Linked DNA regions of Homo sapiens: region 2 is linked to region 1. Evidence: fine-mapped expression QTL. A gene starts in region 1. The other region holds a variant in brackets. All regions are shown on one strand. Distances are between the middles of the regions. Region 1 holds the start of RHOH (ras homolog family member H). Region 2 has its middle 27 kb from the start of LINC02265.

Region 1 (2,918 bases):
GCCCCAAGTGGGAAGAGGCCACGCTCGACAAGCTCCCTCTCACATGGAATTCTGCTGGTGCCGTGAGAGCCGAGGAAGCGCAGCCGCAGGGCAGAAGGAGACCAAGGACTATTGAATGGGGTCACTTCTCCCCAGTGCCTGCAAGGTCCTCGCTTTTGTGTCCACACCCTAACTGTCTAATCTGATTTCCTGCAATGTGTAAAACAAACTGTCTTCTCTTCTCCAGTGTCTCTTCAACTGGCCTTATCATCTCCAGGTCAGTCTCGCCTTTGTGCCTTTGCCCACAAGGTCCTCCCAGTCTGAAATCACCTGCCCCTTCTCCTTCTACCGACACTTCGCATTCTTCCAAAGCCCAGATCTTCCTGACAACTCCAGTTTGCCCCCAGGCCCCCTCCATGGAATTCACAGAACTCTTCAAGCCTGTGCTGCCCCACTCATCACTGAATTCTCATCTTGCATTGCTTCCTAAATTTTACTTCTTATCACAACTACCAGATTATAGGGTCCTTCAAAGTAGAGATTTTTAAAATATTTCTCTTATATCCTCCACGGCACCAGCTTAGAACCAATAAGGGGACACCAACTACTTGTTGCCTGCTTGAATACGTCAATGGCAACTTTCATTTAGTAAAGCACCTAAAACCGGTGATTTCCCAAACTTTGTTTAGTTACAACTCAGGCTACTGACTGGTACCTCGTAGCATATCTCCAAATCAAACCACCTCAGAAGAAAGATTAAATTTAATTAAAAAATACATGTTATACATCATAGAGCACTTTTGGGAAATGGTCATTAACATTGGCAATAGGTGAAAAACACAAGCTAGAAATTCCAGATTGAAATCTACATCATTTAGACTTCGGTTCTGTTTCTTTTCTGAACTAGACAACTTTAAAATTCATATTTGCACAACTTAGAGCATCTTTAGATTTACTTCATCAAACCTTGGGTAGTATTTAAACTACCCATACAGTTGAGCTCAGCCACAGTCACAAGCATATGCATTCTCTAGAATATCTGGAAAACCAAAAAGCCAACTATTGTAACTTTTCATGTTTCAAAAATCTTGTTAGGACTGTGGTGAGGGGCAGTGAATATCAAAGCAACACTCACCCCCCCGACCCCCGTCCCCCTGTAAATTGATTCTACACCTTACAGCAGGTAGCTCAGAGTCATTACGATGTTTGGCCTAGAGTAAAAGCTAAATAAAATTAGAAAAATTTCTTTTGACACCAAAGAAATACTTTTAAGGAAGCAAAATCCTTACCTGTTGCAGAATGCCGAAGAAATGTCTTGACAGTAAAATGACTGACTCCGGAAATCAAATTTGTTCAACAAAAGCAGGTGAAAACAAAAGCGGCCCAAGCCTTTTCACTGTGGTTGATTTCCTCATAGGATCAACCTCTCCCTCGTTCCCGAGAATATTAACTGATTCACACTGGAAGAACTGAAAATACAACAGTTGGGCTGGCAGGGAGTCCACCCCAAGATGGTTGGGTTAGTGTGTGTGGGGCAGCAGGAGCAATCCGAATGTGACAAAAGAGATTAGCAAGTTCCTGTGCCTAAGTCAATTTCCTGTAGCCGGCTTCTCCGCAGAGGGGGTTTCATTTGTGTGGGTTTAGGGGGGTGTGTGTGCACGTGCGTTTCTCTCCATTAGAATATGAAACTTCCCCAGATCAGAGGCAGAATAAGGCCTTTGCCGCACCGCTGGGTTTGCGTTTAATTTATCCCCCACCCTACTCCGAGACTATGTTTCTCTCCCCCTTAGCCCCATTTTCCTCCAGCAAAGCCCTACGTAAAACTGAAGAAAGGAAGACTGAAGAGTCCAAATGATTCCTCATGGAAGTAAAATTACCAAAAAAAAAAAAAAAAAAAGTCCATGCCACTGACCAATCTTGGTTAATTTGAGCTTAGGAAACAACACCTTAGAACTTTCCCCCCATCAGCTTGGGGAAAACAAGAGGTGGATTGTCTGCTTCGCTTTGCTGCATTAAAAACTATCAAATATTTTGCAAAGAACAGAGGCAGGCTTAGTGAGAGTTCGAGCAGCCCCCTGCCGTGCGTTCACCCCTGTATGGACGAGCACCTGGGCTGGGAGTTACCTGGCGATGAGTTGTTTTTTCAGACTCCTCAGAGTTTCATTATTTGCCTAAAAACACAAGTTTACTTGTTTTGTCCTAATGGGCAATCCAGGTGTAGAGACCATCTGCAACTACTTAGGTTATGGCTAAACGCCTAACCCAACAAATTGAACTTTTGTGATGTGGTCACAACCGCCTGTGCCCCAAATCCCTGAATAACTAACTGTTGATGCTACTGCTCACGGTGATAGCTTGGTCAAAATACCTGCCGACCGTAAGGATAAAGTCAACTCCATGCCTTTTATTTTATTTTATCAGTGCATCGGCCCCACACTCAAAGATTTGAGTTTAATTGAGCTGGGTTGGGACCGGACATCAATATTATTTTAAACCCCTCTGATTATTCTAAAGTACTGCTGCCACTCTAATGGATGAGAAGGAGGAAAGAACATTCCACGTAGAGGCAAATAGTATGTGCAAAGGCCCTGAGGTGGGAAAGAGGTTGGCATGTTCAAAGAAGTGAAAGCAGATGACTGTGCTTGCAGCATAGTTGTAGAGGGAATCAATGGTACAAGGTGAGCATTCTTATCAATAGACACCCAATTACCAAGTTCACAAGACTTCCACATGAACCCATGTGTCAATTTGTTAATGCACAGTAAGAACTCAATCTGCCAGCTGAGATCCTCGAGCCTTCTGAAGAGCACATTATCTCCTAGAAAATCCTCTGTGGGAGGCCAGGTGCAGTGGCGGTGGCTCACACCTGTAATGCCAGCACTTTAGGAGGCTGAGCGGGGAGCATTGCTTGAACCTAGGAGTTCGGGACCAGCCTGGGC
Region 2 (2,918 bases), 83 kb before region 1:
AGTATGGGAAAAACCTCCCTCATGATTCAATTATCTCCTGCTGGGTCCCTCCCACAACACATGGGAATTATGGGAGCTACAATTCAAGATGAGATTTGGGTGGGGACACAGCCAAACCATATCACTCCACTTCCAGGGTGTGGAATGTATAAAAGGGCAAAGAAAGAGACTCCGAGTTATATCAGTGAAGTTCCCTTCAGGGGAGGGAAGAAGTGTGCCCCACAACAAGCATCTGTAACATTGAATCACATGAAGAAAGTGTTCATTTACATAATGTCTCCCACTTCCAACTGTAAGCCCCTTAAGGGAAGAATTGCGATTTATTTATCATTGTTTGTCAAAGTCTTATACTCAGAAGACAAGCAAATGTTTGCTGAATGAATGGAGACCTAGAGTCTAGATAGACCTAAGTTCAGTTCTCCTCAGCAAATTACTACAGAAACTTGAGCAAGTTATTTACCCAGAGGTTGTAAACCGATGGCCCACAAACCACATCCAGCTCTAATATGATCTCTTTGACCCCCCAGTGTCTTAAAAGTTTGTAAATTCGATGAAGCTTTTAAAACTTGGGAGATTTCACATAAAGATCTGGATCTCTGGCTTCTGAAAACTTGGAAGACTTATGGTAGATTGAGGCAAAAAAAATAATGGCCTCAATTTTTCACCCCTCTCTTTGTCTACACACTGTGCAACATCGCTTTCAGTTCTTCCCATAAAGGCTGAATATATCATCCTCCTTTGTCTCTGGATTGGATTTGTGACTTGTCTTGGTCAATAGAATGTGACAGAAATGATAGTTTTTCCATTCTGAGCCTGGACCTAAGAGACCTTGTACACTTCCTCTCTTTCTTTCTTGGAACCTTTGAAGACCCCATGTGAACAACCTTGGGCTGGCCTGCTGAAGGATGAGAGACCATACCAAGTTGTCTCAGTTGTTCCAGCCAAGACTCAAGACATGTGAAGGGACCTAGCCAAGATTAGCAAAGCCAGCCCACCGCTCACCCACCTGCTAACCACACATGCATGAGCAATTCCAGCCAAGAGTAGAAGGCCCAACCACCTGATTCATAGGTTGTAGACAATAATAAGTGCCTATTGTTTTAAGCTACTGAGCTTTGGGGGTAGTTTGTTACATAACAATAACTAACTGAAACACTTGGCCATGTAGGGCCGGCTGTTCCTCATCACAACACTTAACTGGGGCTGGGCACAGTGACTCACACCTGTAATCCCAACACTTTGAGAGGCCAAGGCTGGAGGATCGCTTGAGCCCAGGATCGCTTTGAGACCAGCCTGGGCAACATAGCAAGACATCGTCTCTACAAATAATAATAATAATAATAAAAATTAGCCAGTTATGGTGGCATGCACCTGCGGTCACAGCTACTTGGGAGAGTAAAGTGGGAGAATTGCTTGAGCCCAGGCAGTCAAGGCTGCAGTGAGCCGTGATCATGCTACTGCACTCTAGCCTGGGTGACAGAGTGAGACCCCATCTCAAAAAAAGAAAAAAAAAATCTTAGCTGGGGCTGAGTAGCCCCTTGAGATGAGGCATGAATTTTGCAACTTCCAACTGCATGCCAACCACTATCATCTCAATGACTAT[A/G]CATATTTGTATACCAAAAGAGATTGAGAGAACTGTGTAGTCTAAGAAAAATTAGAAAGTGGAGGAAAAATTTACAGATTGCTCTCCATCTTCATGGGTTCTGCAGCCATGGATTCAATCAACTATTGATAGAAAAGATTTGGAAAACAATATTGCATCTGTACTGAATGTGCACAGACTTTTTTTCTTGTCGTTATTTCCTAAACAATACAGTATAACAACAATTTACATAACATTTACATTGTATTTGGTACTGTAAGTAATCTAGAGATGATTTAAAGTATATGGTAGGAAATGCATAGATTATATGCAAATACCATGCCATTTTATATTAGGAACTTGAGCCTCCCTGAATTTTAGTATCCTGGGCTGGGGATCCTGGATCCAATCCCCTACAAATACCAAGGATGACTGTATGTTCTTACTCTGACTCCCTGTACCTGCTTAATTTCTAGATACACTTCAGTTTGAGCTCTTGTTTTAATCCCCTCAGGCTTCGTCTGTAAAAATGAGGTTAAACACATATGCATCAGAGGATTCTTTAAGGATTAAGTTAGGTTTAGCGAATAACATTGGGGTTTTTTTGTTTTTTGTTTTTTTTTGAGACGGAGTCTCGCTCTGTCGCCCAGGCTGGAGTGCAGTGGCGCGATCTCGGCTCACTGCAAGCTCCGCCCCCTGGGTTCACGCCCTTCTCCTGCCTCAGCCTCCCGAGTATCTGGGACTACAGGCGCCTGCCCGGCTTATTTTTTGTATATTTAGTAGAGACGGGGTTTCACCGTGTTAGCCAGGATGGTCTCGATCTCCTGACCTCGTGATCCACCCGCCTCGGCCTCCCAAAGTGCTGGGATTACAGGCTTGAGCCACCGTGCCCGGCCAGCATTGGGGTTTAATGCATAAATTCCAGAGCTAGACTGCCAGGGTTAAGATCCCAGTTTTGCCACTTACTAACTAAATCCATGCATTGTGCCTACTACTGCCCTGATAGATGTTCAATAAAGCTACTTTTGTTCCTTTCCCTTGTTAAAAATCTTTCTAATCTTCACATTGTTTCAGCATGTTGTTATCAATCAAAGCTAACTTTAAAGGAGATTATTATTATTTTATTTATTTATTTATTTATTTATTTATTTATTTATTTATTGAGATGGAATCTTGCTCTGTTGCCCAGGTTGAAGTGCAGTGGCACGATCTCTGCTCACTACAACCTCCACCTCCTGAGTCCAAGCAATTTTCCTGCCTCAGCCTCCTGAGTAGCTGAGTACAGGTGCATACCACCATGCCCAGCTAATTTTTGTGTTTTTAGTAGAGATGGGGT

The links. PIP is the estimated chance that this variant, and not a neighbour inherited with it, causes the effect.
Region 2: its variant is the best candidate, but not a certain one, in a credible set for the expression of RHOH in whole blood (INTERVAL, PIP 0.57).

What each region holds. Positions count from the first base shown.
Region 1 is chr4:40,195,651-40,198,568 of GRCh38, reverse strand. It overlaps RHOH (ras homolog family member H), which reads right to left and starts at 1,538. Exons shown (of 3, transcript NM_004310.5): 1 at 1,269-1,538. RefSeq lists an enhancer at 466-565.
Region 2 is chr4:40,278,873-40,281,790 of GRCh38, reverse strand. No RefSeq gene overlaps it. Among named protein-coding and RNA genes, the nearest start is that of LINC02265, 27 kb to the left of the region's middle. The variant A/G (reference allele first, on the strand shown) is at 1,604.